Regions from separate parts of the Homo sapiens genome. Here all the other regions are reported to be linked to region 1. The links are microRNA targets in miRTarBase. Many come from high-throughput screens and were not tested one by one. Region 1 holds a microRNA gene; each other region holds the end of a gene's coding sequence.
The links. The annotated mature microRNA hsa-miR-221-3p reads AGCUACAUUGUCUGCUGGGUUUC and lies in region 1 at 1,710-1,732, opposite strand. An mRNA with a match to its seed (bases 2 to 7 or 8) in the 3' UTR can be bound and repressed. Matches are read on the target gene's strand: a 7mer-m8 pairs with bases 2 to 8, a 7mer-A1 pairs with bases 2 to 7 and ends in A, and an 8mer does both.

Region 1 (4,136 bases):
AGCATACAGAAAGACACTCATCACTCCAGAGAGTCCAAGGATCTTAGAAGCTCTTGTGTCAGGAACAGGGGACTAAGACCAAATACTTTAACAAAAGATGCTATCACCTCTATTAGTTAGAAAATTATGACAGTTTTAGCAGCTCTGTTCCAGGAACTGAGGGTGAAGACCAAATATGTCTTTTTCTTATTATATTATCACAACATTCAATCTTGCTTTGAGGATCAACCCAATACTTGTACCTGAGAGGGAAATGTAAACTTATCAATGGAATTAGGGAGTTCTTCACACCTGGCACCACTGTCAACACCTTCTCATTTAATGATAGGCAAAGGGACTCAAAGAACATCAGAAGTAAGGAGTGGAGGACTGGGCATGGTGGTTCAAGCCTGTAATCCCAGCACTTTTGGAGGCTGAGGCGAGAGGATCACTTGAGCCCAAGAGTTCTGTACCAGTGCACTCCAGCCTGAATGACAGAATGAGAACTCATCTCTTTAAAAAAAAAAAAAAAAAAGTATGAGTGGACATGGGAGAAGAGAAACTGTCCCTTTGGTAATTATGATTTATTAAACATAACCATGTTGCACAGAGCCACTTATTTCTCTTAAAAGCCTGTCAAACGTCTTAAGTGGAATTACTTTCTCTTCCCGGGTCACAAAAGCCAGTGGCTCAGGTACAGAATAGATAATAGAACTGATTGGTGAGTAGGAAGCCAAAAGACACACACAGAGAACAGTACAATCTTTTAAAAGCTCCAAGTCATTAGCTTTATTTTTACTGAATTCAGCATGGGATGACAAAAATGCATTATATCACTACCATCCATTATTACATGTAGACATTTATCCTTGTATTCTTTATATGTCCATTTTCTACGTTAAATCTGTTAACCAATACTAATTTAAATTACATGATTTCCTACTAAAAATATGCAGTTCATATAAGCAAGGGCAAATAAATCCTCCTTAAAACATTTTATTCCTTTATAATTGAGAACTTAACAGTCTTAATGGCTAGTTCTTAAAAAATGTTTATAGGATTAAGTTTATTTAAGAGAGCAGACAAACAAAACATATTGTAAAACTAGTATTTTCCAGAAGCAATTTCCATTCTCTTCCTTTCTTCCTGCAAACTGGTGTTTTATCTTTACAAGTTCTCTGTCATTCCATAAGAAAGCTGAACAGTGGTTAAAACATCCAGTTTGCTTGAATTCCTGAGTGATTCAGATTCCAGTGAGATTGAGGGTCATTCATAACAGTTACAAGGCTGGTGTGGTAAAGGGAGAACAAAAATAAACTGGGTTTCTGCAGGTAAGTGAGAAGACAAAATGAAGAGGAATAAGGTTGTAAGGCAGTATGATTAGGCTTGTGGGTGCTATGCCTTCTGATAATAATTATGAACAGAAATAGAAGCCAAAAAGTAAACAACATGTAAGTTGTCAATCTTTGACAGTTGAGGCAGGGAGAAGGAAGGAAGGATGACATTACACCTTATCTCTGGTTTACTAGGCTGGTGTGTGAGACCATTTGGGTGAAATCGTATTGAAATCATTCATTGCTGAGGTGATCAGCTTTCTTGCGGTCCTTTCTCTGCACTCTATTCAATGATAAACTCCACTGGTTTATACCTCCTGGAAAACAGTTATTCAGAAACATTATAGGGGTAGCATTGGTGAGACAGCCAATGGAGAACATGTTTCCAGGTAGCCTGAAACCCAGCAGACAATGTAGCTGTTGCCTAACGAACACAGAAATCTACATTGTATGCCAGGTTCATGCCCCAGACCTGGATGTTCAGCTTGCAAGTAATTCTCACATACTATTTCAACACAACTGCCTACTGCATTCAAGATTTCAAAATTGGCATTTGTCTTTTCTACCACAAGGAAAAGAAAACCAACAGTCAGAAATGCTGGGACTTACCTACTACCAACAAAATTTCCTTAAACCATCATATCATCAAGTTGTCATCATTTAATCATGACATCATGTTGAAAATGCCATCTAAAAGTCAAGAGATGAAAAAGCTGGATGGAAGGAAGGTCGGATAGATAAACTGGTAGGTACGTGGGCAGGTGGGTGGATGGATGGATGGATGGGTGGATGGATAAATGGGTGGATGGGTAGGGGTAGATAGGTAGGTAGGTAGATAGATGAATAGATTGATCTATCCAAATGATACCTTTCATAGGGGGGAAAGAGAAAAAAAGAGGTAAAACAAAAACAGGTAAGAGCTAAAACATGGATAAATATCCAGATTCCTCCCCCTTGTAGTATTGAAAGCAAATAGACCTCATCATTCATAAAACCTTGAAGGTTCCCAAGCCCCAGCTGATAATGTTGGACTTAACACCCTAGAACTTGACTCTCTCCTCTCTCTCTGTCTCTCTCTCTCTCTCTCTCTCTCTCTCTTTGTGTGTGTGTGAGTGTGTGTGTGAGTGTGTGTGTGTGTGTGTGTGTGTGTGTGTGTGTGTGTGTGTAATTCAAGGTAAAGTTTTCATTATTAAAGACTGCCCAATAATCTCTCTCAGGACACTGAAGCAGAAGCTAGAAGATGCCATCAGAGACCCAGTAGCCAGATGTAGCTGCTGATTACGAAAGACAGGATCTACACTGGCTACTGAGCCATTGAGGGTACCTACACCTTCCAGCAGCTGGGTGATCCTTTGCCTTCTGGGGAGGGGCTCTGTGGAAGAAAAAAGAAGATATCAGATTTCAATTGCACATTTTCTTTGGATCATGAATTGACATTTTGACAATATTCCCATGTACGTAATTTTAAACAACCTCTGGATTTATTTACTTATCCAACAGATACTGACTGAGTGACATTAAATAAAGTGCCACATATTTTCTTAGGTGCTGGAGATCCAGCAGCAAACAAAAAAAGTGGAAAATCTCTATACTTCTACAGCATACATGATTCCTTGTGACAAAATCTACAATCAATTATTTGGTATGTTTTGCAGTAAAATGGAAATATACACAAGAGAAAAACAAACAAGCAAACAAAAAACCAATCTACCATTTTATTGTGGCTTGGAGCATTTTTGTTGCTTCCTGTCACTTTAACTTGGGTAATCTAGCAATGATGCACATATGTAAAGTAAATTGCAGTTAAAAAATTCTTTCGTGTTACGAACTGAGGATAATACAGTTATTTTACCAAATATCTCAAACACCAAAGAAAATTACAGAAAATGCATATTATAATAAATATTCAAAGCAGGTGCTCACTAGCATGTCAGTTCCAAGCTTTCCTCCCATGATACAATGAAGGTAACAAAATAAGTCACAGGATTGGTGTTCTCTTTGCTATTCATTTATCCACCCCAGAAATACTTACTGAGTACCTTCAATAAGTACCTTTCAGTACCTTACTGAAATACTTCTGCGTGCTTTATTCCAGGCACTGGGAATGCAACACTGAACAAAATCCTTGCACTCACGGAAGTTTAAGTCTAAGATTTAAGGAAAGGGTAGAAAAAGACTGAAAAAAACCTCCATAGATATGGACGGTCATTTCATAGAGTAATGAAACAGTTAAGAGGAATGCTATTTTCGATAAGGTGGCTAGGAAAAGCCTCACTGAGGGCCTGGCATTTGAGTGGATTCCTGAAGTAGGAGGAGAAGAATCATGTACATACCTGGGGTGGGAAAGGACACCACAGGGAGAGGCAAGAGTCAGAACAAAAAGCACTGAAACAGGAAAAAGCCTGGTATCTTGGACAAGGTGTTCTTTTATTAGCACATGACCACATGGCCAATTATTGTTTCCTACTTTTAGGATTATTCTAGAAGGTAAATGACTATGCAACTTTTCTCCAAGTACACGTCTTAGAATCCTTTGCTGTGAATTTAAAATGCTTCAGCTATCACTTAGAAAAGATTTAATAAAGCTACTGTCAATTGGAAACTAGTACCATTTGATCGGACATGCAGCTATACCACAGTATGACACACACATATTTATCACCAAGAGAAAAGTGGCTTTTTAAAAATGTGTTAGCTATAAGAAAAGATAACCAGCTTTCTGGGAGCTCTAAATATATACATATCTAGGGAATGATTTAACTATTTAATCACAGATGTCTAATTTTAAGAGGCAACTCACTTGCCAAATTATAGTAATAGTGC
Region 2 (4,000 bases), not on the chromosome of region 1:
ACTCCTGTACTCTACCAGCAGTGTGGCATCAAGAGCATGTGTTGACCCTGTTAATGATTTGTAATGTTTTGTCTTTCAGAACCAGAGGCAGGAGAAGTGTCCCCTCCAGTCGGTGCGGGTGTCAACAGCAACAGCTGGACCTTTAAATACGGACCAGGCAACCCCAAACAATCCGGTCCCGGTGAGTTGCCCGACAAATTCATTATCCCAGGATCTCCTGCAATCATCTCCATCCGGCAGGAGCCTACTAACAGCCAAATTGACAAAAGTGACTTCATAACCTTCGGCAAAAAGGAGGAGACCAAGAAAAAGAAGAAAAAGAAGAAGGGTAACAAGACCCAGGAGAAAAAAGAGAAAGGGAACAGCACGACTGACAACAGTGACCAGTGAGGTCCTCAAATGGAAACAAGCCACTTAGCCAGTTTTTGTAATAATGGCAAATCTCTCCCATGTAGCAATTCCCTGCTCCTTTTTCCTATCTACATGAGCCCTCTTAGAGACCTCAGAAATCTGCAGAAAGTTCCCTGTGTCTGTCTAGAACGCATTTAACAGGTTTTGTCGTAAAAGCTTTACTAAGTCTGGTGTTAACTCTTTCTCTCCACTCTGGCTTGTTTTCAGAACCTAAAAAGCAGACCCAAGTTTCCTTTCTCCTCCGCCGCAAAGGAGAGGCTTCCCAGCCCCGCCAGTGAGAGGTTGGACTCTCTGCCCTGTGCTCCGGGGATCCTGTCTTGATGACACTTGCAGGGCAGGCTGAAAAGTTTTGAGATTGAGCAGCTTGGGAGTTTGTGGCCACTGGGTATGTGTGGCTACCGCGGGTATGCGAGTGCCAGATATTGGCTGAGACGAGCCAGCTTAGACTAATTGGTACAAGGAAGGCAAGAAAACAAAGACAAATAAACAGCGGAAGTTATCAGTATGGAGGGGAAGTGTAAACTTAAAGGGACCAGACTTTCTAAATCTTACAACTCAAGAGGTGGCAGCCACCCTCTAGGAGACAAAACTACCCCCACTGACAAGGCTTTAGGAGACCCTAAAGTCTGTTGGCTGTGACGTCATTATACCTAAAATCTGCATCATACCTGCAAGCCAACAGTTCAGTGTTTTAACAGAGAACCACCCTGGGAAACAGAAGCAGATCTGATGTGTTTCCTATACATGTCCTGTGCTCACTTTATTAAAAATTCTTTTGCACACAATGTTTATGAAAAGGCCAGATCCTTTTCCAATACTTATGCAAAAGCAAAAGAAAACCCCGACACCTCACCTTTCGCTGTTTGTTGTTTCATAGATTTATTTAAAAAAAGAGAAAGTCTATAGCTATAAATCTTTAAAGAGAAATATGAATACAATTCCCCTAAACTCTCCTCAAAAGAGAATTCAGTCTACAGCCATTTAAATGATCATTGCTGCTACAGAAGTGCTTTAAGAGAATTGCCTGAAACATCTGTATTATATCGGCCACCTGCCAATCACAGCTTTACTCTTTCAGGTCACTCTGGGGCTGCCTCTTGCATGTATTACTAAATAAAATGATCTCTCTTTCTCTCTCTCTCTCTCTTTTCTAAGAAACAATTATGTGCACTTTGATACACAACCTTCTCTAACCAACTATATATCAAGACCCAAAAATTGAAGAAAAATATTGTTTTCTCATACAGTGAGCAGATTTTTCAATCTACTAATTCTGTGACTTGTCTTGGTGTGCTAGCCTACACCTTCTCTTTGGTTTAGTTTTCCTTTTCTATAACACTCTGAATTGCTAATCTTACTAACACCTATGATGTTACCTGAAATCAATCTCCCATATGTATGCTGTATGCTATGCTAAGACTCCTGAAATATACTTACTCTGTGCTTGTGTATGTGAATGTTAATGCAACTATTACCTAGAGTGAACTTTAAGCTTTATTGTTGAATGTAATTCCATTATATTTCCTTTTGTACACCTGTGAAAAAGTGGAGTAGTGTTTTTTTAACCATTGTTAATCAGCTTTTGTGTATGAAAGACACAGTAAAATTTCTTTCTTAAATCAAGATACTGGTGATTCAAGGAATTTTATTTATGGTCCAGCCAAGAGCCATCTCGTGCCAAGACTTCTGCTGGCAAGGGAATGGATAAAGCTGTTTTGTTCTAGTAACAATTTTGGAATGAATACTGACAATATTCCATGAGGGTGTGCAAGCACAAATTTTACCAATCTGACCTCTTTGAAGTTGCAGAATGCTTTGAAATTCTAATGGTATCTGAAATATCAGCTCATAGAAAGTAACAAAATTTGCTGTCACCTTAAATAAGACATTTTAATTTTGTTATAATGTACAATTTAGAAGTTTGATTAATTATATTATCTATTTAGGCATTAATATAAAAGAGGTAGGAGTCTGTTATTTAAAAAAAGCATTAAATTTAAAAAAAAACTGTCTTGTCTACTTTTAGCTTCATTCTCCCATATTTTGAAGGGTGTGTAACTTCAGCTCTGCAGGATTGCATGGGGTAAAACTTGTTACCAACACATGTGAACCATTGCTACATTGTAGGTTGTGATCATTTTGCCCCACTGAAGCCCATGTATCTGACCTTACGTGCCTTTTGAACTAGGAGAATCGGGCTAATTTATTAATGATGATAATTATAATGTATCTGTACAGCACTTTTTACATTTGCGAAGTGCTTTCCAATCCATGTTAGTTACTAGTTATTACAGCTGTAAGGATAAAACACGTCATGTGGATTCATTTTGAATTGGTGCTATTGGTATTTCCTCTGTTATTGCTAATAAATGAAAATGGTGGTATGAAAGAAATGGTGGTCATTTCTAAGAATAGGAGGAAATAGAACACTGATAAGCAATTAATACTGAAGAAGATTGCTGCAGTATGAAACTCACTGTAACACTCTCTTATCACGTTAGCTTTTATGTCCATTACTAAGGCAAAAGCCCCAGTGGAATCAAGATTCAAACTTCATATCATTAGAATGGGCAGCCAGGAGGTTGCTGCGTCACTTTGTAGTTACACTATTTCAGTTTTCTCTAATAAGAATTGCAACAAACCCATTTTTATCACAAGAGCCCTTCTAGGCATCTTTTTCATTACTTGTTTAGCCCTTGCACCTCTCTACAATTGGAAAGCCAAGTGACACCCCAAAGAAATGAACTTTTAGGTCAGGGATAGTGGCTCTTGCCTGTAATCTCAGAACTTTGGAAGGCCAAGGCCAGAGGATGGCTTGAGGCCAGGAGTTCAAGATCAGCCTGGGCAGCATAGCGAGATCCCATCTGTACAAAAAGAAATAACTTTTATTGAGTACAGGGTGTATGCCAGCCACACTACTGCATAGGTTCAGCTGTGACAAATAGATTGTTTTGTCCTTTTGTAGTTAAATTTGTATAAATATAAGCTTTAGATGCTGTAGGTTCTCAGTTAGGAGCAATTTTGCCCTCCTGGGGACATTTGGCAACGTCTGAAGTCATTGTTGCTTTTCATTACTTGAAGTGGAGGGTGCTATTGGCATCTACTGGGTAGGGGGCAACGATGCTGTGAAACACCTGGCAATGCACAGGACAGCCCCCTATAACAAAGGATCTTACAGCCCAACATGTCAATGTCTCAAATCAAGATTGAGAAACCTTGAGATAGAGTGACCATATAATTTGTGTAGTCCACTTTTGAAATGGAACAGGAGACACCATTCGTTATTACTTCAGGATTCAAGATGTAAACTGGGACTGTCCCAGGCTAACTGGGATTTATAGGGACTCTATAAATAAACTGGTATAGCTGTGCCACTAACTAGATGGGGAATTTGAGGCAAACCACTACTTCTCTCAGTTTTTCAGTCATCTCTAAACTGGTCATAATTATAATACAGACCTTATAGATTTGTGAGGTAATCTTAAAAGGTTTTAGCAGGTCTGGCACACCATAGTACTCAATAAATATTATTATTTATTAATCCTTTTCTTCCATTTCCTTACCCCCTTTTCAGAGATTTAGCTATTAG
Region 3 (4,136 bases), not on the chromosome of region 1:
TATACATTTGTCAAACTTTATCAAACTATATAGTTGATGTTAATTATACCTCAATAAAGCAGAACTTTAAAAACTGTCTCTGAACCATGACTCGTGCTCTGAAATGCTGTTAATCATCTAAGAAATCCTTATAGCCCATTTTTTAGGGACCACTAAAAATGCACAAGACCAGAAAACCACCTCATCATGTTCTCTAATATTAAAGAAACTGCAAAATTCAAATTAATGTTTACATGCAATCATTTACTAAAATCTGTCAACTTCATTTTTAAATGTAACATTGATAAAAACTGCGTTTGAAATAATGTGGTTTCATACTAGAAGAATTCTGAGACTGTTAGAAAACATTTAAAATTAAGATATTCCTATCCTGCCTTTAATTTTTTTAAATGTCATTAATGAGCTATGGACATATTTGAACATGTGAGCTATGGATATATTTGAACATGTGGGGTGAAGTCTCCGAAGATTAACACGACCCAAGGTCTGTGAAGGTCCCTTCTCAGCCCTGAGCCACAGAGATTAACATTCTCAAGTAATAATTACGTGCCTTAAATTTATACTAAGATTAATATGAAACAAAAGTATGCTGTGGTTGCTTGAAAGGTTAATGTAATCTGAAATTGTAGTAACAGAAGTGATGGTAGGCCTGGTCCTTTGGGAAATAGCAAGTTCAACTGCAGTCTGTCCAGCTTAGACCATAGTACTGACTGCAATCCACAGAGTATTTGGCAGATGTTAACCAGGAATGTACAGAATAGCTGGAAACCATGTTAAAGACAAATGTTGACAGGAAAGAAAACAAACAAACAAACAAAACCAGGGTATTCAGTCTAAATTAAAAATAAGGGAAGATGACAGTTAACTCCAAATATCTAAATGGCCATCAAGTAGCAGAATGGCCTTGTTTAATTATGTTCTAGAAGGAAAAACTGGAATCAGGTGTTACACAGAAAGGGCTTTAGCTTAGCATTTCTAAGAGCTATTAGGCAGCCTTCAAGGGTAATGAACTGTTTTGCTTGATGTATCTGGTTAGGGAGGATAGCCATTAAAATTACTTCTAAGTATATGCGAGTACCTTATAAACCTAAAATTCTAGAATTAAGTCATATGCCGTATAAAAAACTTGAGTATAGAATGCTTTTGGATTCTAGCTAAATTGGTTTATTGTAGGGCATCTTTTGTCCCATTTCTCACAAGTTGTGTTAATTTCCTGACATTTGCAGGGTCAATGGTTCTACTTACTGATGGCTTTCTTTCCTTATACCATAATGCAACAAGCAGTTCACCTATTCCAAGTTGAGAGATAAGGAAGGTGACCTCTTCAGGTAATCTCCAAAAAACTTTTTAATTTTCTTGTTGTATAGCACAAATAAATTATTTGATAGTCATAGCTCTATGTGAACAAAGGAAACTAACAACTTTGCTGTTCAGCTGCCAAATTTGTAAGATAAGGAGGTTGAGAGAAGACCATTTTTAAAAGCCACAACTTTGTCAATAACATCAATGGTAAGAATCTTCAGCTTTAGGCTGAGCAAGGTGGCTCACGCCTGTAATCCCAGGACTTTGGGAGGCCGAGACGGGCGGATCACGAGGTCAGGAGATCGAGACCATCTTTGCTAACATGGTGAAACCCCGTCTCTACTAAAAATACAAAAAAATTAGCCAGGCGTGGTGGTGGGTGCCTGTAGTCCCAGCTAACTCGGGAGGCTGAGGCAGGAGAATGGCGTGAGCCCAGGAGGCAGAGCTTGCAGTGAGCCGAGTTTGCACCACTGCACTCCAGCCTGGGCAGCAGAGCGAGATTCCGTCTTTAAAAAAGAAAAAAAAAAAAAAAAGAATTTTCAGCTTTGGTCAGATGTAGGCAGGCTAGAACAACTGGAGATGGTGGGGGATAGACATCATGATAAAAACTCAACTTGCTCTTTCTATGTGGCCATTCTCAATGCACACCCATGATTCCTAGAAGCTCTGCCAAATACCAAACTTTATTCTAGATATCTGAAAACTCTAACACGTAACAGTTTCTCTGTAAGAAAACCTAATGGTCTAACTTCACATTTTACACAGCCCAAGATTAAATAATACGTTACACCACTCTGAGACCTACTTAAAATTGGATGGTCAGATTATAAAGATACACAACAACTTACAAACTACACTTGCAGCTTAAATTAACAAGCAAAATATTCCTCTGGTGAGAGCTGCCATTTCAGTGAGAACAGTCTGACCAAGTACTTAGACTTTTTCAACATAACTTTAAGACATTCTGGCAATGTTGCCAATGCTTAATGTTGCATGAATATCTAACCAATATTTAAATGTAACCTGAAGTATTATTCCACCATGTAAATTATTCCATGGGAACAAAATGAGGCACTTATAGAAGGCACATTAACTTTTTCAAGCCACTAGGCATCATTTAGTAACACCTACCTACACTAAAAAGCATACTAGTTAGCTTCAAAGAGTTAACTTGCCCAACTCCCTAAGTCACATGCTAGTTACCAAGTATATTTAAATGCCAGGCACACACCTATATATTTCCTTTAACACTTAAAAACTTATAAAGGTAGGAGGGGAAGAAGAGGGAAGTCCAGACTAATGAGTACAGTATTTAGTCTTCATATGAAAATAACTGATTAAAAAACATTTTATGGGCCACATAAAACACCTCAATTTTCATTCCAAAATGAATGTAGACAAGTTTTCAACTTGTCTACTGCCTGTCATAGAAAATGGAAGGTCAAATGTACATTTTAACACACTATACAAATTATTTTGTATACTGCATAAAACTTCCATCACTAAGAATTTTGTTAAACTGAGATCTAAAATATGCTTTCCTCTTACCTAATACTAATAAACGTGTTTGAGAAGCTAGAAGTATAATAAAAACATCTGACAAAAATGTAGTTAATAAATTATGAGCCTTATGAAAGGAACTCTAAGAAAGACAAGTAGAGAGCTCTCCTTTCATTATTCTCTCTTTTGGGGTCCAGTTTCAAATGATCACTACACACATTTTACCCCTTTTAGATCGATCACATCCTGATTAACCTAACAAAGCGCTAAGCCATGCTCTTAAAAATACTGCTTTAACAGCTACTTTTCCTAAGGAGTACTCCTGGTAGAAAGATACTAAATATGTAGTAACAGTATAATTATAATAATAAAAAAGCTCCACACTTGAAAAACAACTATACTTAGAGACTAGAACAAAGATACCAAAGGGCTTTGGCCAAAATTAGTATAAATAGACTTTATTGAAGTCAGTGCCTCTGTACTGAGACAGAAGATTGTGTCTACATAAGCACAAGTTGTAACATTTCACAACTTCTAAAAGGAATGTCAACAATTACAACGATCATGCATACCATGGTCGATAATCACATTTTAGAAGCATTTTCAACCATTTCTAAAGAAATGCTTATAACATTGTTATATATAGAACTACTTTCAATAAACTGCAAAACATTGATCGACTTTTCCAGTATGAGCTACAGTGTCAACACAAAAGGGAGGCATAAATGTTTAATTTATGAAATCAGAATGGAATATTTACTGTAAAGAAAAATTAAAAAGCTTTCAAATAAAGGCCATTATCGAACCAACGTGAAGAGCACAACTCGAACTTTTGAGTTCATTCATCTTTTAAAGCTGTCCTCTCAATAACTTCAGTTCTAAGCACTGAATTCAGTACTGTGAATATTCCTTGGATTGAAGTTTGGCAATGATGCGGTCCAACTGTCTCTTTGCTTCACACTGTGGGAAATTGCTCATGTCATAATATTGAGGGGCAATTTTCACCAACCTGTTTAGAAGTGGGCAGAAAAATTTCCAAATTAACATTTAATTGAAGTACTGGAGTTGTTAATAGGATAGGCATTATTCATTAATATACTGATGAACCAAGGCAAATCTATGAATTCAAGTCTCAGAAAAATACAAATAACTAATCCTTACAAATAGCACTTTTAGAAATGTGTTAAGTATTTTATTTAGTAAGATGTGAATTTTCTGATGTTGGACTTACCATAAACTTAATAACAAACCCCTCAAGATACATTAATGTAAAGATAACAGATAAAGTCACTGATTTCTTTACTCTGGCACACTATTAATTTGCCACTCCAAGG
Region 4 (4,136 bases), not on the chromosome of region 1:
TTAGCTTTGTAGTACTACAAAGCATCAACACTTAAAAATGATATAATTGTAACCCCAAAAAGCATTTTCCACCAATTTTCCAGTAATTGTAATGTATTTGCACTCTACTGCACATTCTTTTCCCCAGTACCTCTCATGACAAGCGCTACATATTTTTAAAAAGCTGGTTAGAATTACCATGTTCATTATACACACCTTAGCACAGTAGTCAGAACAGGCTCTAGAATCAAACTGTGTGGGTCAGAATCAGTTTTATCACATACTGGCTGGGTGATATTGGTCAGCTCACTCAACTAAGCCTCCGTTTCCTCATTTATAAAATGGGGGATAAAATAATACCTATTGATATGGTTTGGCTGTGTCCCATCCAAATCTCATCTTGAATTGTAGCTCCCACAATTCCCACGTGTCGTGGGTGGGACCAAGTGGGAGGTAATTGAATCACGGGGGCAGAACTTTCCTGTGCTGTTCTTGTGATAGTGAATAAGTCTCACAAGATCGGACGGTTTTATAAAGAGTTCCCCTGCACAAGTTCTCTCTTTGCCTGCTGCCATCCATGTATAAGACATGATTTGCTCCTCCTTGCCTTCCACCATGATTGTGAGGCGTCCCCAGCCATGTGGAACTGAGTCCATTAAACCTCTTTCCTTTATAAATTACCCAGTGTCAGGTATGTCTTTAATAGCAGCATGAGAACAGACTAATACATTTATCATGAGCCTGAGAAAGGCATAACAGGGTTGGGCACATAGTAAGTGCTCAATAAACGTCGGCTATTATTATTTGGAGACTCAGAACCAAGAGTAAAGTTAACTGCTCTGTTTGGGAATCAACCACCATATTCTAGCACTGCACCTTGCTCCATGGAGAAAATCTCTGAAACCTAACATGCCTCTCCCAGGGCTATGTTGGATGGCATTAGAGTTATGAAAGAACCACCTTATCATGTCAGTTCCTAAAATGAGAAGCTTAGGATGGGAGGAGAAAGTACTGATGAATAGTTCATTTCAGATGAACATAAAGATAGAATCTATAGGATAAAGGAGCTTAATGAATGCCATTCACAGTTAAGAGCTCAAAATGTCATACAGCCTAGTCAATAATATTCTATGCTAAGAGTGTGAACTTGAGACAAAGAATGATTTCTAGTGATGTCCTCAAAGAATCCACAGCCTTTTTCTATTGTCTTATACCATTTGGCTAATTCTGTATATGTGCTGTATCAGCTTTGATAATTCTTTCAAGACACAGTCTTTTCTCACACCCAATATAACACTAATTTTTCTAGTCATATTATTTTCTCCAAATTTATGCCACATGCTTAGTAATTCTGAGATTTAAGTAATCTGGCTACATATTACTCTTAATACTGACACATAAAGAGACTTTAGCTAGTACATCTGTATACATTTCAATGTGTTGCTCTGGTCTATGGCCATACCACCCTGAATGCACCCAATTTTGTTAATATGTTGCATTGCTAAAAGGACTTTTTATTGGAATAGAAGAGAAGCGTTCTTCTAAAGTGTATGGCAGGTGTGTGTGTGTGTGTACATACACATGTGTACATACACATATATTTTCCCTCTGACAATGCACCCATCATATGTAATATTTGCATACAAGGTAATACTGGCCCCAGGAAGAATCAGTATCTTACAGAGGGTAAGGCACAACTGAAACACAGAGCAAAGATCTAGATACAACCAGATTTACTTGTTTCTGGTTTCTTAAAATTTCAAGTACAAAGAAACTAGGAATGGTAACTTATAAATAAAAGAAACAAGAGAAGGGAGGATAAGAAAATAAAGGATAATCGAAAGGACTGTTGGAAACCAACATGACAAGTGATGGGTGTCTTCATTCACCAATGGCTCAATGAAATTGATGTAGATAATTCTGATGTTGTTAGTGGTCAAAGTGGGCCATAGAGAGGCAGAGAAGGAATGTTATAGGGAAAGAATTTATGATCCAAAAGGTGGTCCTCTATGACGTAAGACTTTGATTGCTTTTTTTGGCCCATCAATCATAAAATGATTATTATTTCTTTTCAGGATAGTCACAGGGTGAAATTATGAAGCTTTCATCAGAACCTATATAATTTTTTTTCTGAATAGGCTCAATGTAATCAATTTTAAGTTTAAAGGTTAATTTTGGAAAGCCCAAAATTTCTCAATTCCAACTCTGGTGAATAAGTGGCTACTCAAATGGTAAAACTAAAGTGTAAGAGTAATAGAGGGTTTTCTCATATGGTTTATTAAATGGGAATTCTAAGAGTGTTCCAAATATTTGGAAGAATATAGTAGTATGGAATAATAGTACTTGGGAATAACAAGTGACAACCCACATTGGATGCGTAAGTTCTGGCATGTTACTTTAAACCAGTCTCATTACTTTATATAGTATTCCTTGGTATAACAAAAGCCTCAAAGATGAAATATAGTGCCTGGTGATACTGAGTTTAAGAGTACATCTTTGTTGGTAGATTATAGACATGGATTACAGATGGAGTGCACCAGAGTTCAAAAGAATGAAAACCTGTGAGGTAAGGTATTAGATTACCACTGTGGATATTAAAGTCATATAAACTAATGGCAAGAAACAGATGGAGAATAACGAGTGAGGTGCTGAGGCCATCTAAAGAGATGGGTGCAAGGTAATGATAGGAGTGACAGACCATCTAGTCAGGGAGTTTGCACAGGCTGTTAAGAACCTGAGAAAGCAGTATTGTAATGGGCCAAAAAAGATGAGTATACATTCTTTGTAAGGTTTTTATCTTCCTAAAGCATCTTCGTCTCCTTCTCCTACCTGATGCCATAACTAGGATAGTGCCAACTATCTGTACCACAGTGTACAGTGGGGAGGTGGAAGGAGAGTCAGAAGTCACCAAAATGTATAACTATCCAAGCTCAAGAGCAGCTGGGCTGAGTCTCCACTCACCTCTTTCTCTGTATTACTCCCATAACCATTACTAATGTGTCCACTTTCTTTACTGACACAGGTGCTGGGACTGGGGGTGGTGAAGGATATGTACAGATGCTCAATGACTCAATGGAGTCAGTGAAGGTGATACATGAAGAAAAATGCTGGAGTGCTGTTAAAAATATAGCATTCTGAGTTTGTATGGGAATACAAATTTCCACTGACTAGAAGGAATATTAGAATAAAAAAATGCACACTTAAGCATAAATACTTTAAGTGTCTGTAAAATTTTCCTAGAAAGCTACATACAAATATAAGTTTCACACAGAAGCTACTTCTGACTCTACAGCAGCTTCTTAGATCAGATTAGGAATACAAGGGCACCTTCAAGGGAATAAATGGGAGAGGGGGATCACAGGAGATGGGAAGAAGCACAGGAACTAGGAGTAGCCAGCCTCTCTCAAACCTATAGCTACTCACCCAAAAGACAAAGTTAAGCTCTTCAAGCCATGACAAGCAACTTGCTCTAATGCTATTTTAAATTTCTAAAGGATACATTAGGTCATCAGGAGCTCCATCAGATACTTTCAAAGACAGTCAAGCTAATCAACCTTCACCAAGGCACTGGGCCCAAATTACTAAAGAGCTATCCTAACTTTGCCACCACTATAGATTCTGACACTAAAGTTGTGATGACCTTTCTGCCTTTTAGTACACTGAAAGACCTCTCACCAGTGTGTGGTTTCCCTAATGCTGAATAATGCTCAAACTCTAACTGATGTTGTTCCTAAACGCTTATGGATTCAGATTTTTCACCACTGTGGATTCTCTGATGTCGAATGAGACTTGACCTCTGAATAAAGGCTTTCCCACACTCATTACATTGGTAGGGCTTCTCCCCTGTGTGAATTCTCAGGTGTTGAATGAGACCAGTGTTCCCATTGAAAGCTTTCCCACATTCTTTACATTTATAGGGTCTTTCTCCAGTGTGGATTCTCTGATGTTCAATAAGGCCTGACTTCTGACTGAAGGCCCTCCCACACTCATTGCATTTGTAGGGTTTCTCCCCAGTGTGGCTCCTCTGATGACCAATAAGATGTGAGCTCCGCCTGAAGGTTTTCCCACACTCATCACACTCATAGGGCTTCTCCCCAGTGTGGATTCTCTGATGTCCAATGAGGTGTGAGCTATGACTGAAAGCTTTCCCACACTCA
Region 5 (4,136 bases), not on the chromosome of region 1:
AATAGATGCAATTCTAATTTGGGGATATAATTATGGTTGCCTCTTCTGAAACAAAAGAAAATATCCTGCCATTTGCAGTTCTCTACATTTCTACAAGATAATTGACCATAAAAGGATAGAAAGTCCCCTCTTTTCACAACAGAAAACTCAAGTCTATTATTTTTCTCAAAAATGATAGATTTGGGTAAGTGTGTCTAATGGGTATGCTATCCTGCCACAGGAGGACATCTCTAGACTTCGCAGGAAGCTGGAGACCACAAAGAAACCAGACAATGTACCCAAGTGTGATGAGATTCTGATGGAAGAGATTAAGGATTACAAGGTTAGAAAAAATGCCTTAGTGATTAGTTTTTTGTCAAAGCTTTAAGTGGCCTAATAGACTGGGAGAATAATTTGCATGATAGTAACCAGAGAATGGTTTATTTTGGAGGTTGGGGGGAAATGATGCTCTTTTTTTAGTGCCTTGTGGGTTTTCTTCTTGGTTGTGTAGTATATGAGAGCCATTTGGATCATAAACTTTCATGGTTGTTCAAACTCTGACATCTTTTCTTTTTAGGCACGCTTGACCTGTCCGTGCTGTAACATGCGTAAAAAGGATGCTGTTCTTACTAAGTGTTTTCATGTCTTCTGCTTTGAGTGTGTGAAGACACGCTATGACACCCGCCAGCGCAAATGTCCCAAGTGTAATGCTGCTTTTGGTGCCAATGATTTTCATCGCATCTACATTGGTTGATCTAAGTCAAGAGAAGAAGAGGAGCTGGCTAGTCAGGAACTTATTCATTAACCACCAAACCTCTACCTCTTCTCTCCTTGACTGTCACCTGTAGGACAGTTTATCAGTCAACTACCTTTCCTCCAGACTTTACTTCCAGGCTCTCCTCTTCAGTAGCTGGATGACTTTAGCAGAAAGGACTGGTAAATACAAGCCTTGGGTTTCAGAATGAATTAGAAACAAATAACTCTTACTGTCTTCCCTCCCAGCTTTGTTTATTTTGTGCTTTTAGACTTTTCAGTGTTTTCTTTTTCCAGCCCACTGTATAAACTTGGATTGTCCATTCCTCCTGAAGAAATCAAGTTGGTATTTTTGATGTGGAAAAGGGAACAAAAGTGGAAACATGGCTACTTTTGGGGAGTGATATTTTAAAAAATAAGTTGTCTATGGGCACAAAGTTTTCTTCATTTGTGTAGCAAACTTCTTGTGAATGTGGATTACAAAATGGTATAATTGTGCTACTCTCCCCTGGGTGGTTTGCAGCCCTAATGAAATTATGTCTAGGATGATTCAGTCTATTTCCCATTTACTAGCAGAGTAACTTGTTAAGATCAGCTGGCTTTCTTGTTAAAGTTATTTAAGTTTTGAATGCTCTACTACTTCAAGTCTTTAAATTTCTTGAGACTAGAATAATTTTAAATAATATGACCCTTTGTCTTCTAATGAAATAAAGATTGAAGAGGTTGAGTCAGGACTGAGCTGGTGAAGAAATCTTGTGGGTATTCTGGAAATTTGATACGGAGAGAACTTGGTGAGCTATGAATTACTCTCAGTCTCCTTTTTACAGGGTTGTTGTGATCCCTCTTTTCCAGAAAATTCTGTGGAATGTTTCTGTAGGACTTTGTTCTCCACAAGCTTGAATTAAAGCAGGATTCAGTTTGCATTTGTGTTTATGGTTTTTCTTTGAAACTTTTGTCTTTATTATTACAAGTTGATTTTATATCTGCTGTTATAGAATTAAATTTTCTTGCATGGAAATAATCAGCTTAGGTTAAGAGGTTGGCCTTGTTTAGAGTATTTAGATCTTTGCTTAATTGAAGCACTTTTCTCCCAATTCTTTTATTGAGTCTATTCTATGGAGAAATTATACCTAAAAGATTAATTTATTTGACTACTCAGTTATCTTTCATAGTTCATTAGGTGGGGTAAGAGACTATAATTTGTTTTTTGGGGGAGCATATTGCTGCCTCTAGCTTTAGGGTGAGAGTTCTTGCATTATGTGGTGGGTTTTTTTTTTTTTTTTTTGAGATGGAGTTTTGCTCTTGTCGCCCAGGCTGGAGTGCAGTGGCACAATCTTGGCTTACTGCCACCTCCGCCTCCTGGGTCCAAGCAATTCTCCTGCCTCAGCCTCCCGAATAGCTGGGATTACAGGTGCTCACCACCATGTCCAGCTAATTTTTGTATTTTTAGCAGAGATGGGGTTTTACCATGTTGGCCAGGCTGGTCTCAAACTCCTGACTTCAGGTGATCCACCTTCCTTGGCCTCCCAAAGTGTTTTGATTACAGGTGTGAGCCACCATGCCCAGCTGCATTATGTTTTATAATAACCAGCAAACCAGAGGTTTCATAAATCTCTGGCAAGGGGTTGTGTAAAATGGATCCTTCTTGATCACCACCTGTCCTAGAAGACAGGTAAGAGCAAATTCTGTGTCTTTCTGTGGTCACCAGCTATAATCAGCAGGATTTGCACTGAATTCCACAAAGTCATGTGGTATGAATTAAGCAATGAGTCTAATTGAAGAATCTTACTAGGTCATCAAGAGAGGTCATGGGTCCCTTGATCCCCCTGCTCAGCAAACACCCCCACCCCCACAGAACCATCATGACAGGATTAGCTCCTGCTTCTGGACACAGTGAGTTTTCATTTAGTAATAGGACACTTTCCCCTTGCTTCTTGCTCTTCTTATAGGGTAAGCTTGAGCATAACTTTGTTGGTTGGGTGCAGATATACTGCTTGGTCAACAGGTGGTTTGGGCTTGGCTGTTGGCTGTTTGTGACAATTGGCTGAGAAAGCCAGCTGCCCAGCACCAGGGGACCATAGGGCCTGTGGAATGTTGTGGAGGAAACCACTAGCCCCATGGGAAGTTGGATTTAGAGGAAGTTCCTCTAGTTGAGATGAGCAGGGAGCCCCTGATCCCAACTGGCTTGAGGTCCTGGCAACACAAGTTGAGCTCTCACAGTCATTTTCAGATAACAACCAAAAATGATGGTGATTTTTTGGCAGTTGGCTTCTCTCACTACAGAAGAGGTCAATGAATGCGCTTTAGGAATACTCCCAAACTGCATACCAAATTTTATTTGTATTGTATGTACATTATTCATAGCTTTTTTGGATCCTAGTTAGCAATCACAGCCCTTGATCCATATGAACTTTAAAGGGTAATTTCTTTAAGGTAATGCTTATAAATGCCAATTTCAAAGATTATTATAGAAGTCCTAGAGGCTTCTCATTTCTTAAAAACACTTCAGGCTGGGTGCAGTGGCTCACGCCTATAATCCCAGCAGTTTGGGAGGCTGAGACAGGAGGATTGCTTGAGCCCAGGAGTTTGAGACCAGCCCAGGCAACATAGGGAGACCCCGTCTCTACAAAAAATTTCGAAAATTAGCTGGCTGTGGTGGTGCACACCTGTAGTCCCAGCTACTTGGGAGACTGCAGCGGGAGGATAGCTTGAGCACCGGAGGTTAAGGCTGCTGTGAGCTGTGATTATGCCATGGACTCCAGCCTGGGTGACACAGTGAGACCCTGTCTCAAAAACAAACAACAACCATTTCAGATTTTGTAGGGATGGTCTCTCTCTCTCTTTTTTCTTTCTTTCATTGTTACCTTGGAAATTTCTTAGTGACTTTGACCAAAGTCAGGTGTGCTCTGAGGCATGCATAACTACATGGCTTGGATCTTACCTTCTTACTTACTATAGGGATCTTTTTCAAAGGTATTGAGCTGTTTCTGCAATTGTTTTCTTACATGAATTTCCATTGCAATTCCTTTTCCTTTTTCTCTGTCCAGATCCGTAGGCTTCCTTGTTCTTCAAGGGCCGGAATTTGATGCACATAGTTTAATGTACATGCCACTAGAGTGATGACTGTGATTTGATTTTGTGAAGATTCTAGACAATAAATAATCATCAGTCTTCTAAACCTACTAGGATGGTGATGCTTACACTTGCCGGAAGCATATGCTACTCTCATCTTTATTCCCATTGTCATTTGCTAGGATGTGGAATGCCGTTACATATTGTTCTTTGAAGATTTATCTGAGGACTGCCAGATAAACCCATGTCCCAGTGGATCTGCAGAAAAGTTTTGATTAGTCATTATTGCAGAAGTCTGCTTTTCTGATGTTAAGACAGATACACTGAGATTA
Region 6 (4,000 bases), not on the chromosome of region 1:
AGATTGCGCCACTACACTCCAGCCTGGGCGATAGAGCGAGTCTCCGTCTCAAAAAAAAAATGTGCATCAAGCATAGGATTGCTTCGAGTTTGCCCACCACAAGTGTATCTTTTTAATCAGGACATGGCATGTGTTTCCCCCAAGCTCATTTTAGAGACCAGGGCAGTGGGAGTAGTTGTAAAATGTGAGAGGCAAAGGTCAAAGTTTGTGGCTCTTGTCTTTAAAATGCAGAAGCTGTGGAAACACATCAAGCACAAGTATGAGAACAAGTAGTTCCTTGGAGGCCCCCATCCAGGCCAGAAGGACCAGGTCCACCCAGCAGCTGTTTGCCCAGAGCTGGAGCCTCAGCTTGAAGATGATGCTCAAGGTACTCTTCATGGACCACCATTCGCTGTTGGCAAGAAACGGCTTTACTTACAAAACAGACTCTTTACCTTCTGCTGTGTTTGAAGTATGTTTAGTCAGCATGCTCAGGAAATAAATGTGAATTGCCCTTGAGACCTGCTTCTACATTGGTTGCTTTGTTAACTCTACCTGATCTTCACTTGTCAGTAATTTGAGACCACTTCAAAGCCCTCTGCAAACACCCCAAAGGCAGAATCTGCTATTTTGAGTTTTCCATTAACTTCCAAAGAATTCTGGTTTTCAAAACAGGAGCCAGAGTTGGAGATATTACAGTCAACTTTGGCTTCTAAGCCAGTAATTCCATTCTTAAATACCTCACTGTCTTGGCCATGGGGAAGCACTATGGCCTCAGCTGGGGGAAAGACCCTGGCCTAGGGGTCTTAGCCACTCCCCACCCTAGGGTATAGTTCAGGGGTATCCAATCCTTTGGCTTCCCTGGGCCATGTTGGAAGAATTGTCTTGGGCCACACATAAAATACAGTAACCATAGCTGATGAGCTAAAACAAAAAACAATGGTTTGTGCAAAAATCTCATAATGTTTTAATAAAGTTGAAGAATTTGTGTTTGGGCCTCATTCAAAGCCATCCTGGGCTGCGTGCAGCCTGCAGGCCACGGGTTGGACAAGCTTGGTGTATTCTGCCTATTACTGAGTATCTTTTGGTAAGCAGTCATACCTCTCTGGGTCACAGCCTCCTGCCACAGTTCCACTCTGATGAGTTCAGTTCATAAAAGTGCTTAGTTGGTGGGTTTGAATCCTTACTCCACTGATTCTAGCTATGGGAACCAAGGTGATATGGTTTGGCTGTGTCCCCACCCAAATCTCGTTTTGAATTGTAGCTCCCATAGTGCCCATGTGTTGTGGGAGGGACTCGGTGGGAGATAATTGAATCATGGGAGCGGTTCCCCCACACTGTTCTCGTGATAGTGAATAAGTCTCACGAGATCTGATGATTTTATAAGGGGTTTCCCCTTTTGCTTGGCTCTGATTCTCTTGCCTGCTGCCATGTAAGACGGGCCTTTCGCCTTCCACCATGATTGTGAGGCCTCCTCAGCCATGTGGAAATGCGAATGCATTAAACCTCTTTTTATAAATTACCCAGTCTCGGGTATGTCTTTATCAGCAGCGTGAAAATGGACTAATACACAAGGGCAAGGCACTTGAACTTGCTGAACTCCGGTTTCCTTATCTGTAAAATGGGGTAGTAGAACATACTGTGTGGGATTTTTGGGAGTATTAAAGGAGTTGCAGGCCTGTAATCCCAGCACTTTAGGAGGCTGAGGTGGGAGGATTGCTTGAGGCCAACAGTTTAAGACCAGTCTAAGCAACATAGTGAGATACCCTGCCTCTACAAAAAAATTTAAAATTACCTGAGCATGGTGGCACCAGCCTATAATCCCAGCTACTTGGGAGGCTGAGGTGGGAGGATTACTTGAGCCAAGAAGTTAAGGTTACAGTGAGTTATGATTGTGCCACTGCACTCCTGCCTGGGGGAGAGTGAGACCCTGTCTCTAAAAATTTTTGGCTGGGCATAGTGTCTCACACCTGTAATCCCAGCACTTTGGGAGGCCAAGGCAGGCGGATCACTTAAGGTCAGGAGCTCAAGACCAGCCTGGCCAACATGGTGAAACCCCATCTCTACTAAAAATACAAAAATTAGCCGAGTGTGGTGGCATATGCTTGTAATCCCAGCTACTCGGGAGGCTGAGGCAGGAGAATTGCTTGAACTCGGGAAGTGGAGGTTACAGTGAGCCGAGATTGCGCCACTACACTCCAGCCTGGGAGACAGCAAGACTGTCTTGCTCTGTCATCCAGAATGGAATGCTATGGCCTGATCTCAGCTCAATGCAGCCTCGACCTGGGTGCAAACAATCCTCCCACCTCAGCCTCCCAGGTAGCTGGGACTACAGGTGTGCGCCACCACTCCCCACTAGTTTTTTTGTATTTTTTGTAGAGGTAGGGTTTTGCCATGTTGCCCAGGCTGGTCTCGAACTCCTGGACTCAAGACATCCTCCTGCCTTGGCTTCCCAAAGTGTTGGGATTACAGGCGTGAGCCACCATGCCCAGCCAAAAATGTTTTTAAATTAAATTTTTAAAAATAGAGGAGCTGTAGGCCGGGCGTGGTGGCTCACGCCTGTAATCCCAGCACTTTGTGAGGCCGAGGTGGGTGGATCACGAGGTCAGGAGATTGAGACCATCCTGGCTAACACGGTGAAACCCCATTTCTACTAAAAATACAAAAACATTAGCCGGGCGTGGTGGCGGGCGCCTGTAGTCCCAGCTACTCGGGAGGCTGAGGCAGGAGAACGGCGTGAACCCGGGAGGCGGAGGTTGCAATGAGCAGAGATCGCATCACTGCACTCCAGCCTGGGCAACAGAGCAAGACTCCATCTCAAAAAAAAAAAAAAAAATAGACGAGCTGTAATGCAGTTAGCACAGTCACAGATGCTGGCACATGGAAGAAACTGTTGGCAGAGAGACATGGAGGCTAAGGACTCAGAAAACCAGACGATTCTGCTGGAAGGCTGGAGCAGTAGGAATGTGAAGAGGAGGAGTTGGAGAAACGTCTGGTCATTCATTCAGCAAGTGTTTGGCTGGCCACTGTGAGGCACTGTGCTAGCAGGACATATGATGGTAATATAGCATGTGGGGCTTAAACTCCTATGGGGAAGACACTAAAAGCCATCCTGTATTATTACAGACTGAGCCAAAGGCTCTGGGAAGCAGTGCAAGGAGAGGGAGGGATTAACCAGGGTGACAGCTGGTCTAGGGAAGCCTCAGAAGAGCTGAGACCGATAGGTGATAAAGATGAGCCACTTACGTTGGGCGTTAGAGGCAAAGCAGGGGAAGTAGCAGGTTTTAGGGCCCATATGGGGAAAGCACTTGCTGTGTTGCAGGAGCTCACAGGCCAGGTAGATGAGGTTGAAGGTGGAGAATACACGAGACCAGATCATTCAGGACCTGGTAAGTCATAGTGAAGAATCTGGGCCGGGCACAGTGGTTCATGCCTGCAATCCCAGCACTTTGGGAGGCCGAGGTGGGTGGATCACTTGAGGTCAGGAGTTCAAGACCAGCCTGGCCAACATGGTGAAACCCCTGTCTCTACTAAAAATACAAAAATTAGCGGGGGCGTGGTGGCGTGCACCTATAACCCCAGCTACTTGGGAGGGTGAGGCAGGAGAATCGTTTGAACCTGGGAGGCAGAGGTTGTAGTGAGCTGAGGTCTCACCACTGCACTCTAGCCTGGGCGATAGAGTGAGACTCCATCTCAAAAAAAAAAAAAAAAAAAAAAAAGAATCTGGATTTTACCAAAATTAGAATGAGTAGCTACTACTGAAAATGTCTTAAGCAAGGGAGCAACAAGCTCTGTCATATAAAAACCTCACTCTGGGAACTGTGGGGCAATTAGATTGGAAGTGGGTGGGAATAAAAGCAGAGAGCCTAGCTAGGAGGCTGATGCCTGGCTCCTGGTTAGAGCTGATGGCTGTTAGAGACCTTGCAGCCTGGCTGGAAACCGTGCCTCCTGGCTGGGAGTGCCAGAGGAGAACACTGGGAAGCCCTGAGCAGGCATAGAGCAGTTGTTTTGTAGCTGGGGT

Region 2: the mRNA of PCDHA1 is a reported target of hsa-miR-221-3p. Seed matches in the 3' UTR shown: 8mer at 450-457.
Region 3: miRTarBase lists DHX15 as a target of hsa-miR-221-3p. The part of its 3' UTR that is shown has no 7-base or 8-base seed match.
Region 4: the mRNA of ZKSCAN8 is a reported target of hsa-miR-221-3p. Seed matches in the 3' UTR shown: 7mer-m8 at 3,223-3,229, 7mer-m8 at 1,350-1,356 and 7mer-m8 at 145-151.
Region 5: the mRNA of RNF20 is a reported target of hsa-miR-221-3p. Seed matches in the 3' UTR shown: 7mer-A1 at 1,184-1,190.
Region 6: the mRNA of UQCR10 is a reported target of hsa-miR-221-3p. The part of its 3' UTR that is shown has no 7-base or 8-base seed match.

Annotation. Positions count from the first base shown.
Region 1 is chrX:45,744,471-45,748,606 of GRCh38, forward strand. MIR221 (microRNA 221) reads right to left here and starts at 1,796; the gene lies at 1,687-1,796. MIR222HG (miR222/221 cluster host gene) reads right to left here. Exons shown (of 2, transcript NR_170290.1): 2 at 744-4,136. MIR222 (microRNA 222) reads right to left here and starts at 2,654; the gene lies at 2,545-2,654.
Region 2 is chr5:141,009,548-141,013,547 of GRCh38, forward strand. PCDHA1 (protocadherin alpha 1) reads left to right here. Exons shown (of 4, transcript NM_018900.4): 4 at 80-2,800. The coding sequence ends at 390. It overlaps PCDHA2 (protocadherin alpha 2), which reads left to right. Exons shown (of 4, transcript NM_018905.3): 4 at 80-2,800. The coding sequence ends at 390. PCDHA3 (protocadherin alpha 3) reads left to right here. Exons shown (of 4, transcript NM_018906.3): 4 at 80-2,800. The coding sequence ends at 390. PCDHA4 (protocadherin alpha 4) reads left to right here. Exons shown (of 4, transcript NM_018907.4): 4 at 80-2,800. The coding sequence ends at 390. It also overlaps PCDHA5, PCDHA6, PCDHA7, PCDHA8, PCDHA9 and PCDHA10, and 7 more genes. Among named protein-coding and RNA genes, the nearest start is that of PCDHB1, 40 kb to the right of the region's middle.
Region 3 is chr4:24,524,231-24,528,366 of GRCh38, forward strand. It overlaps DHX15 (DEAH-box helicase 15), which reads right to left. Exons shown (of 14, transcript NM_001358.3): 14 at 3,245-3,811. The coding sequence ends at 3,694. Among named protein-coding and RNA genes, the nearest start is that of MIR573, 6.0 kb to the left of the region's middle.
Region 4 is chr6:28,153,591-28,157,726 of GRCh38, reverse strand. ZKSCAN8 (zinc finger with KRAB and SCAN domains 8) reads right to left here. Exons shown (of 6, transcript NM_006298.4): 6 at 1-4,136. The coding sequence ends at 3,710. Among named protein-coding and RNA genes, the nearest start is that of ZKSCAN8, 14 kb to the right of the region's middle.
Region 5 is chr9:101,561,690-101,565,825 of GRCh38, forward strand. RNF20 (ring finger protein 20) reads left to right here. Exons shown (of 20, transcript NM_019592.7): 19 at 221-322; 20 at 557-1,655. The coding sequence ends at 733. Among named protein-coding and RNA genes, the nearest start is that of RNF20, 30 kb to the left of the region's middle.
Region 6 is chr22:29,769,447-29,773,446 of GRCh38, forward strand. It overlaps UQCR10 (ubiquinol-cytochrome c reductase, complex III subunit X), which reads left to right. Exons shown (of 2, transcript NM_013387.4): 2 at 232-967. The coding sequence ends at 273. Among named protein-coding and RNA genes, the nearest start is that of UQCR10, 4.1 kb to the left of the region's middle.